Regions from separate parts of the Homo sapiens genome. Here region 1 is linked to region 2. A link means that fine-mapping ties the variant in region 2 to the expression of a gene that starts in the linked region. Tissue or cell type: esophagus mucosa. Region 2 holds a variant in brackets; the other region holds the start of a gene. All regions are shown on one strand. Distances are from middle to middle.

Evidence for each region. PIP is the estimated chance that this variant, and not a neighbour inherited with it, causes the effect.
Region 1: ARHGAP23 starts here. The variant in region 2 is the best candidate, but not a certain one, in a credible set for the expression of ARHGAP23 in esophagus mucosa (GTEx, PIP 0.82).

Annotation. Positions count from the first base shown.
Region 1 is chr17:38,426,131-38,431,346 of GRCh38, reverse strand. ARHGAP23 (Rho GTPase activating protein 23) reads right to left here and starts at 2,883. Exons shown (of 24, transcript NM_001199417.2): 1 at 2,799-2,883. The coding sequence starts at 2,861. RefSeq lists enhancers at 902-1,809, 1,810-2,719.
Region 2 is chr17:38,465,504-38,470,719 of GRCh38, reverse strand. ARHGAP23 (Rho GTPase activating protein 23) reads right to left here. Exons shown (of 24, transcript NM_001199417.2): 7 at 3,389-4,553; 8 at 1,421-1,576; 9 at 1,085-1,196; 10 at 816-873. Among named protein-coding and RNA genes, the nearest start is that of ARHGAP23, 40 kb to the right of the region's middle. RefSeq lists enhancers at 809-1,445, 5,097-5,216. The variant T/C (reference allele first, on the strand shown) is at 2,051.

The DNA of each region.
Region 1 (5,216 bases), 39 kb after region 2:
GGCTTCATGCCCCTTTGGAAGGAAAACACCAGTGAACCGAGCCCTGGCCCAGTGCTATGGGCTAGCATGGGGCAGGGTGGGAAAGATTGGAGGAGTAAAGAAATAGAACAAAAGACAAGCAACTAAGCTGCAATCCAGCCAGAAGCTGACCTTGATCTTGGGCTGTGTAGAAAATGGACACGGATTTGGGGTGGGAGTGACAGCGGGACATAGCAGGTCCTGAGAAGCCAGATAGTGAGGGTGAGAGCCAGACTCTAGAGCCAGACTGCCACATTCCTACCCTGGCTCCACAGTGCACTGGGGGTGTGATTTGGGCTGCAATATTGGCTATGCCTCAGTGTCCTCAACTGTAAAATGGGGATAATAATGGTATCTACCTCTTAGTGGTATTGTGAGGATCAAATGAGGTAGTTTTTATAAATACTGGCCAGGAGTTTTTGCTGTCTGTGTATTAACTATGAGCTATACTGTGAAAGCAACTCCCCTTTCTTAAAAACACATTTTTTGTTTCCAGGCACCAGTGCTCATTTGAATATATTTGCTGGAATATTTGATATCTCCAATGACCATCTCCAGGTTTCTACATTGGAATCCAACTTCACAAGAATCCACTTGACCCACTATACTGGAGGAAACTTCCCTGCATGGCTAGCCTGGGATGCTGTGGGTCACAAGCCCCTCCCTAGAAGTTCTCCTGAGTATCTAACTGCAGTCCCTCACACTGTAACTTCTTCCATGCTGCTGCTTTGTAGTCTCTCTTTTAACCTTACACATCAAGAAGTCCTTCTGAGTATCCCTGCAATGTAGGATGAAGCAATCCACTACCCACTCCTGCACTGCTCTGCTCAGAACCAGCACCCTCCCTCACCCCCACTCCCATCCATGCCAAGAATGCTGCACTTCTTCCCCGTGAGCCAGGGTCAGCCCGAGGAGAGGGGCACAAGCACAGGGCCTCTTCCCCCCACCCAGTCCTTCTCTGCTTGGGCTGGGATCCACACAAGCCTGACCTATTCCCGTAGTCAGACACCTTCCTAACAGCTTTCCTCCCCAAGCTTCATCTTGTGCCCTGACTACCCTCAAGTGTCCTGGGTTCTTGCCTGGGCACTGTCACTACATAGGCTCAGACCCTCTCTGTGAAATGGGACACCAACACCTACCCTGCCCACTCCCATTCTTCCTGTTTATTATTATTGAGGCCTTTGAATCCAGCACTGAATGTAGAGGATTTACTGCTCCCATGGTTCCCAAGAAGAGGTCAGGTCCTCAGATGCAGGATCTTGGAATTCCCAGCCACCTTGGGGTGGACCCAACCACACTGTGGGCAAGTGGAAGAAGCCGCTGGGGCCGGGGGCCTTTGGGCTGCCTTTGGAGGCGAAATGACTGGTTATATAATCGAGATTCAAATCGCATGCCAAGGAGCACATGGCAGTGAGAGCTGTCACTTTGGGGAATGGGGTCTGTTGCCCTGGCAGAGGGGAGAACCACATGGGATCAAAAGCCACTCACCCCCAGCTAGGCCGCAGGGTTGGGGTGGAGACAGAGAGGGGTGCAGGGGATAGAGATGAAGTATGTGTTGCTGGTGGGGGATTGAATCCAAGGGACTCATGCTTGGATTCATGACCTCCACCCCCACCCCCCGTCCATCCTGAATTTCAAGTTCATAATTAGGAAACACACTTTGGCTGAAGGGAGTCGGGGAGAGATGCAGATTGAGGGAGAACTGAACACACATCCAGCAACCAAGGAACACACCAGTCTCCAAAAGAGTTGCAAGCACCAGATCCCACCTTCAACACTGCCGGGAAAGCTGGGGAGGAGGGTCCCCAAGTCTTTCAGCCCTGTCTAAAGAGGAACAGGCCTCAGCCCTGGCCTTGACCTCAACCTGGACCCCGGGGAATTTCTTTTCCGAGCTCAGGGAAACTGTTGGCCTGACAGTGTTCAACCCTTCAACTTAGGAGCAGGGAGGCCTGCTGGGGGGCTCCTGCAGGGCGGGCAGCCAGGCTCAGAGGTAAGGGAATGGCCCTGATGGGGGGATGGGGCTGGGAGGCCCCTGCTGGCCCCTCCCCAGCCTCAGCAGCTGGCAGATGAAAGAACCCAGGCAGAGCAGCCCAGCGCTGAGTAATGCCCCTGGCACCCCGCGCTCTGACCCACCCACAGCCGGTCGGAGAGGGCAGAGGGGAGGGCAGCCTCGCCGGCAGAGCCCGGGGTCCTGGGCCTGTGTCTAGAACTTCCCCAGGATCCAGGAGGGCGGCGGAACCGCGCCTGGCAACCCGTCCCGCAGTCCGACCCGGCAGGGGGCGAGTGTGGCGCGGGGAGGGGGTGTCCGGACGCCTTAGTGGAGGACGTCCCGCTCCGGGAACCCCCTCCCCCACCCCCTCTCCCTCCAGCTGTGCCGGGGCCTCGCCAACGGAAAACGAAAACTCGGGCAGAGGAAACGGCGGCAGGCGCCCCGCCTGAAAAACCCGAACAAAAGCCGCGGGCCTCCCGCCCCCGCTGCCCAGCCGCTGGGGGCCTGGCACCGCCACCTGGGTCTGTGCCCCCTGTCCTGACAGCCCCGTGCCCGTCCCGACCCCTTGCCTGCTTCCGTCCTTCCCACCCCTCTACCCCGGACAGCTCTTGCTCGGGCCCCCTCCCGGGCCTGCCACCAGCTGAATCTCCCCGCAGCGGTGCCCGCGGTGCCCGCGCCCACCGTGCGCCCCAGGCTGTGCAGGGCGAGCGGGGTCGCAGCGACCCTGGCTTGGCAGCCCGCTCCCCAGCAGCTACCGGCCCCGCCCACTTCCCTGGCCCAGCACCCTCACCTGTGGGGGCCGGGGCTCCGGGCGGGGCGGGATCCCGACCAGGCAGAAGGCGACTCCATTCATCGGGTGGCAGCGGCGGCTCTGCGGCCGGGGCACGGCTGGGGGCGCCGGCAGGGACCCGGGAGGGGCGGGGCCGGGGGCGGGGCCGAGCGCGGTGTGGGGGGGCCCCCCCCGGGGTCCGCCCCCTCGCCCCTCCCCCTTCCCACCACCCACCCCGCGCTCCCTTCTGGGTGCCCCGGCGGCCTCGCTCAAGGGCCACAGACCTGCAACCGGGCTGAGGCAGAGGCGAGCGCTGCCTGAGAGCTGGACGTCAGAGCCCAGCCTGGCGAAGAGAGGCGGTCTCCAGGAGACGCTTGCCCGGCCTCTAAGGGACCGGCCCAGATAGAGGGCCATCCAGGCCCAGGAAAGAGGACAAGGGCACCGAACCCAGAACTAGCACGGGGATAGGGAGGGAGGGAGAGGGAAGCAAAGAGAAACAGCCAGCCAGAGATGGTCAGAAACAGAGATCCAGAGACCCAGAAAGCATGAGAAAGGCAGAGACAAGATAGAGACAGCGCAGAGAGAGGCAGAGAAAGTCAGAAACAAAGATGAGGAGACCCAGGATCAGAAAGGGGGGAAGACAGAAAAAGGCTTAGAGGCCCCCTTCCCTTTAGAGACCCCTAGACATTGAGACACAAGGGAAGATTTAGTGCAGGGGGTGGGGAGACGGGGTGCCCCTCAGTGTAGGGTAAGCCCCTCCCAGCCAGAGTCTCAGCCCAGGATCCCAGAGAGGAGGGGGAGTCGAGCATAGAAGAGAGGCTGGCAGGTGCCCCAGCCCTTCGGACCCCCACCCAGCCAGTCCTGGGGCTCAGGCCATGGGGCCAGCCCACAGTCCTGCTCTGCAGTGAACAGCAGTGACAGCAGAGGCTCCCAATCACCAGCACCCCACAGCCACCCTTCCTGGCTTCACTCTGAGCTGGGCCTAAAGAGATGCCCTGGTCCTGAGCCAGCTTCTTTCCTTGTCCCCCAGAAGGACCCCCTCCAGCCCATCCCCTGACAGTCCAGGGAGGGACAGTCCTTCTGTCTTTCTTTTCCTTTTTTTTTTTTCGGCAGGGTCTCACTCTGTCACCCATGCTGGAGTACAGTGGCACAATCTAGGCTCACTGAAACCTCTGCCCCCAGGTTCAAGTGATCCTCCCACCTCAGCCTCCCCAGGTAGCTGGGACTACAGGCCCATGCCACACCGCCCACCTAACTTTTGTACTTTGGTAGAGATGAGGTTTCACCAGGATGGCCAGGCTGGTCTCAAACTCCTGACCTCAAGTGATATTCGCCTGCCTCAGCCTCCCAAAGTGCTGGGATTATAGGCGTGAGCCACCATGCCTGGCCTTGTCCTTCATTATTAGAAAATAGCTAGAAAATTCTTTCTACTATCTAACTCCCATTCTTCCTGCTTCTTACTTCCTCCAGCTTATGCTTACCTCTTTCCCATGACTTTTTCAGTTTAAGGGGCTTCCATATTCCTTTTCCCAGATTATGTAGAAAAGAAGGCGGAGGATAAAATAGGACTTGGAGAGAGGAGGCAGTGAAAGCGGGAAGGCCAGCTCTGCCTGCTGGAGTCACCACCTTCCTTGGGCAAGGAGACCCCTGAGAGCCGAGCAGCCCCAAGACCTCCACCCCTTTAACCTTGATCAGGGTTGGGAACTCAGGTCTTAGAGGGGTTGGGGTGCCCCAGACAACAATTAGGCCATCCCTACTCCTGTGAACCTGAGGAATGAGATACTGACTGGGGTTTAGCTCATATGCTTTATTTAATGTATTTTAAATCCCCTGGCAGTCAAGAGAAAGGGATTCTGTTTCATAATAATGGAGGGGCAGTTAAATGACTCCTCTCCCTTCCTCATCCCTTTTTATCAAGGTCATGTGCAGCCAGAATTAGCCTCCACTTCTGGAAAGTCCTTCCTGCTGTCTAACTGTAATCTGTCATACTGCCTGGATTTTTTTTTTTTTTTTTTTTTTGAGATGGAGTTTCACTCTTTTTGCCCAGGCTGGAGTGCAATGGTGCCATCTTGGCTCACTGCAACCTCTGCTTCCCAGATTCAAGCTATTCTTCTGCCTCAGCCTCCCAAGTAGCTGGGATTACAGGCGCCTACCACCACACCTGGCTAATTTTTTAATTTTTTGTATTTTTAGTAGAGACAGGGTTTCATCATGTTGGCCAGGATGGTCTCGATCTCTTGACCTCGTAATCCACCCTCCTCGGCCTCCTAAAGTGCTGGGATTACAGGCATGAGCCACCGCGCCTGGCCTACTGCTTGGATTTTCTTGCTTAACTTTCCACCAGGTCCCTGTTCCTGTCTCTTTCTGCCCTGTAGCTCCAGTGGTCCAATGCTTGTTGCCACCTTGGCTCAGAGGTCCTTTCCTCCCAGGATAAAGGGT
Region 2 (5,216 bases):
ATTAAAAATACAAAAATTACCCAGGCGTGGTGGCACACGCCTGTAATCCCAGCTGCTCGGGAGGCTGAGGCAGGAGAATAGCTTGAACCCAGGAGGTGGAGGTTGCAGTGAGCCAAGATCATGCCACTGCACTCCAGACTGGGCAATGGAGTGAGACTCTGTCTCAAAACAAACAAACAGCCAGGGCTATCACAGGCCTGATCCTGCCTCCCCAGGTCCTGAGGCTGGGAACTCTACCTGTCCACCAGTCTCAACCCTGTGTCCCGGCCACACCTTTCCAGTGTCCACCCCGACCCCATCCCATGAAGACAAGACGCGATGCAAATACTGACTGAGGGTAGTGAAGGAAACAAATGAAGCCCCAAATATAAGTTCAGGGAGCTTCTATTCTAGCTGGGGAGCCAGGCAGGGAGGAAGGGAAACACCAATTGTGCATGAGGCGTGCTGAGGAGGAAAACATAGAGTAGCGAAGGGAGGCGTGAAATGTCAGGAGCGGAGGCTGGAATTTCAGGGAAGACCTAAAAAGCCGCGAAGACAGGGGAGAAGTGAGTCATGTGGCTATGGGGGATGGGTCTGGAAAGAGGCAGTCCAGACGAGGGCCCATGGGCGGGGCTGCATGGTGTCATTCAGGGATGTCGGGGCCCACAGCAGAGGGCGGGTCCCGCGGTGGACACGAGGGTGAGGGGTGCAGGGAGGAGGAGGAAGGCAGGAGCTGGAGCAGGAACCCCCATGCCGAGGCTGTGGCCCCACCTCCCTGACACCCTCTCTCCCCACACCCTCGCTCCTGCGCACGCACACACACTTGCAGCTCTCACCCCGTCGGTGAAGAAGCTCCGGAGCATCCGCAGGCTGGGTATGCGGTTTGGCAGGCGCCTGGAAAGCGAGGGTCGAGGGTGAGGGATGTGGGCAGCAAAGCTGGGACCTCACTATCTCGTCACCCACCAAACCCCAAGCCCAGAAGCCTTCCAGCGGGGGAGGCACACTGTCCCATGCATAGAGGACCCCCAGGGCCAAGAGCCCTGCCCCAGAGCAGCTGGCCACGGTGGCTGTGGCCACCCCACCCCGTGTCCGGACAGGGCCTCACCGCAGAACCCGGCCCTCGTCGCGGAAGGTGTTGAGTCCATCATCGCAGGACTTGGAGCGCTCCGTGGTGATGGCCAGCAGGTAGGAGGAGCGGCGGCCAGCCTTGATGCTGCCTGCAAAGCCGCCCACATCGGGCCTCAGGGTCAGCGGGGCAGCAGGTCAGGGGCTTCCCAGAGCCCTCCCTTCTGGGCAGGGGCAGGAGGTGACTCTCCCAAGGGGCCGCAGGAGAAGCGGAAACCAGAGGAAGAGGCCAGACATCAAGCAGCAGGCCCAACAGAGACCCCTGGGACTGGGCAGCGAGGGAGAGGGTGGGGCTGGGGGTGTGGGGAGTGCTCACTGCAGTCCTGCGAGTAATGGCGTCCGAGGGTGAAAGTGAAGGTCGGGGAAGATGGGCTGGTGCCCAGGACAGGGGCTGAGTTCATGGCACTGGAGACCACAGCAGAGGCAGGGACGTGCTTGGCTTGGAGGTCAATGCTGGGGCTGGTGGGCTCATCTATGCATGTGGAAGGAGAAAGGTGTGAAGGCAGCAGACAGCGGAGCCTGCCTGCCTCCACCCTAGCCTTGCCAGCCCCCGTGCCACTCGCCTCCAGGCTCAGACACATCCCAAAGGGTCCTGCTGGCAACATGCCCACTGTCAAGCATGACTGGCCCACTGTCCAGACTGTGGCCATGGAATCCTTACCCTCAGGAGTGGGGCTGAGCCACCCTCCTTAGACCGGGCTCCAGAGGACAGAGCCAATATTCCCCCATCAGACTGGGAGCCTGCTGAGGGCAGGGACGGTGTCTCCCTCATCAGACTGAGGGCACTCAGAGAGAATGAATTATGTCTCCCCTCTCAGACCAAGAGCCTCCTGAGGGCAGGGGCAGTGTCTTCCCCATCAGACTGAGAGCTTCCTAAGGGCAAAAGCTCCCCCATCAGCTGGGGCTCCTCAAGGGCAGAGATGACATCTCCCCCTCAAACAGACTG[T/C]GCTGTGGAAGAAGAGACTGCCTCTCCCGGCCACAGCCTAGAGCCTTCCTTACTAGCAGAAGGGGCTGTGTCTCTGCTCCACCGAAGGCTGGCTGGGGGAGCCAGGGCTGTGTCTTCCCCCTGCCCCAGGCCTCCTCCCTCTCACTGTCTGGTAGGGTGAGCTCATCTCCCATCTACCACCATCCCTCTCCATTACCCTGCATCTTGCTCTTTCTCCCCAGCCCCGTCTATCCTGCTCCCTCTTGGACACCTCATATTCAACAGTCCTGAACTTTGTCCCCCTCTCACTCCCAACACGGGGGTGAGGCACCACCCCCAAGCCCGGCCAGAAACCTGGGCATCACCCAGCCACTCTACTCTCTTGCCTCTCCCTCTCCTGCATCCAGTCGAAGGCAAGGCAAGCCTTAGAGGGTTCCCTCTGCTCTCAAAAGCCAACCCCAGTGACTAATGAGACCCTTGGGCCTGAAAGGGTCCTCACAACCTGGAAGGGGGTCCTGCCTCTCTCCCTTCAGGGTCTTTGCATATTCTATTCCCTCTCCTTGAATATTCTTCCCCTGATAAACTCCTTCTCATCCTTCAAGTCTTAGCCCAAATGTTCTTTCTCCAAGATTCTCACCATAGCCCTTCTCTGAGCCCGTCTCCTCAAGCTCCCTGTCCCACGACACGCCCATCCCAATGGATTGTCCCTGCATGTCCAACACCCTCTGCTGGGCCATCCAGTCCAGGAGAGCATGGAGCCATGCACAGGGCCTGACACAAATATCTGTTGAGTCGATGGAGGGATGGAGGGTGGATGGAAAGGACAAAGAGGGAAAGATACAAAGGGAAGATGGAAGGAAGAATGGGAGAATGGAAGGAAGAGTCAAAGGAAAGAAAGATGGATGAATGGGTGGAAGAAAGGATGGAACAAATGAATGAACAAAAGAAGGAGGGAGAGAGGAAGGAAAGAAGGAAGAATAGATGGATGGATAGATGGATGAATGGATGGAACAAATGAATGAACAAAGGAGGGAGAGAGGAAGGAAAGAAGGAAGGAAGAACAGATGATGGATGGATGGATGGATGGGGAGAGGGAAAAAAGAAAGAGTGCGTGGAAAGATGCTGAAAGGATAAATGAATGAGAGGTAGGATGGAAGAAAGGATGACAGAGAACAGAAAGAAAGATGGAAGAACAGATGGATGGATGGATGAACAGATGAATGAATTGACAGAGAAACAAGATGATCCCACCAGCACCCAGCCGAATTCTGCCCATGGCAGACAGGCAGATGGGGTACAGCAGGACACAGACAGCCGACAGCTAAGTCCCCCAGGACAGCCACATGTACCATCACTCACCAATAAAGGGGATGGAAGCCAGAGAGTCTTCGGTGGTGGCCAAAGGGGCCACCTTCCTGCCCAGGCGTTCCCCTCGCCCACTGGCCTCTGGCTCTGGGGACTCGTCACCAAATCCAAGGTTCATCTGTCTTGCGGGGGTCAGCTGAACCTTGCGGCCCGTCGGGGGCTTCTGCCTCAGGACCACCTCATCGCCGCGATCCTCCGCAGGAGGCTCCAGGGCCCGGGTGCTGGGTTCCGGCCGTACAACCCTGGGTGGCTCGGAGGCCTCTGGTGGGAATGACGCAGGGGACTGGGCCAGGTTGAAGGTAGGCAGCCCCCCAAAGGGTGAGTCCCGGAAGGAGAGCGCATGGAGGAGGCCGGTCCGGCGCTGGAATGATGGGCTGTAGCTCCGGTAGCCGATGTACCCGAGGTCATCCAGGCCCTGCAGGCCAGACGGGGGTGGGGCCTGGGGCCCTGGCAGGTCCCGAGTTGGGCAGGCGGGGGTGCGGGCAGACGAACGCTGGGAAGCCCAGCCACACCGCTCAAAGCGGGGTGACACCAGTGCCCCTGGCCCCAGTGCCTCGGCAGAACGGGTGGCCCGGCTCAAGTAGTCATCTGAGCGAGCTCGGTGCCAGCCCTCCTGGCCCAGCTGGCTCAAAGCATCCTGGGAGGTGGAGCAGGGCCACGGGCGGGGGGCAGCCACCTCCTCCAACCGGTCCTGGGAGGCGCTGCGGGCCCGGGGGGCCATGGCTGGGCACCGTCTCTCCCCCGCCCGGCGGGGTACCTGGTTTGACAGCCAGTGTGACAAGGCCTGCTGGCACTCCAGTCTGCTGGGGGGCACCCGGCTGCCAGGCTCTGGGAAGGCACGGGGCGTCCGGGGCTCCGAGGAGAGGTGGGGGAAGGCACCAGGGCTGGGGCGGGGCTGGCTCATCCCCAAGGAAGAGTTGTCCAGGTGGGCACGGGCAGCAGGTGGCACACGGAGCCCCGGGTCACTCCAGGCAGCAGGACTCCGGGGGTCACTGGGCAGTGCTGAGGTGGGCTCAGGCACCATAGTGGCCCTGGTGGAGGCCCGGGCAGGAGGGGCGTAGGTCTTGCGGGGGTAGCAGATCGGGGGTGGCTCTGGGATGCTGCGGGCCTCTCCAGAATACGGCTCGTTCCCTTTCAGGTAGGCATCCTGGGAGTAGGCCTGGCCAGAGACACAGAGACAGGTAAGCAGGGCCAGACAAGTCCCACAGGGTAGGGGAACGGCAGCCCGAGGAGGTCAAGGAGCCCAGGAGGGAAATGAAGGGAGAGGACCAAGCGGTGGGGGGAACGAGGGAGAGGCATAAGTGGGTGGGGGTGGAAGGGCAGGTCCAGGGAGAGAACAAAGAAGAAGCAAGAAGCCTTTGAGACGCAGGCAAACTCCAGCAAAAGTGGGATTTCGCTAAGACTGTGACAAGGACTGCCCTAGCCACAAACATTCCAGCATCTGTTTCCTGGGGTCCTCCCCCAGTCCTGGCCTCCACCGCCTGCCTGCCCCCTTATGTCCACCAATGCCCAAAGCTCCTCGGGTGGAGCCGGAAAACCCCACCGAGACCAGTCAAGGTGGCAGATGAGAGAAGAAAGCCGGCTAGGGGTGTGTCTGGGTGGGGCAGAGGCTGGCAGAGCCCAGCTGTCCCTCCATCCCCGGGAATGGGGAGCTGGCTCCTGAGCCACAGGGGTGAGAAGGAGTTTGCCCACCTCCTGCCAGGCTTGAAGGAGGGGACTTGAGCCACCTTCTGCCACCCCTGGGCCTGGAATTTGGCACTGGGAGCTGAGGCTGACGCTGCATTGCTAAGGAGTGACAGGGCCAGCGCCCAGGCCCAGCCAA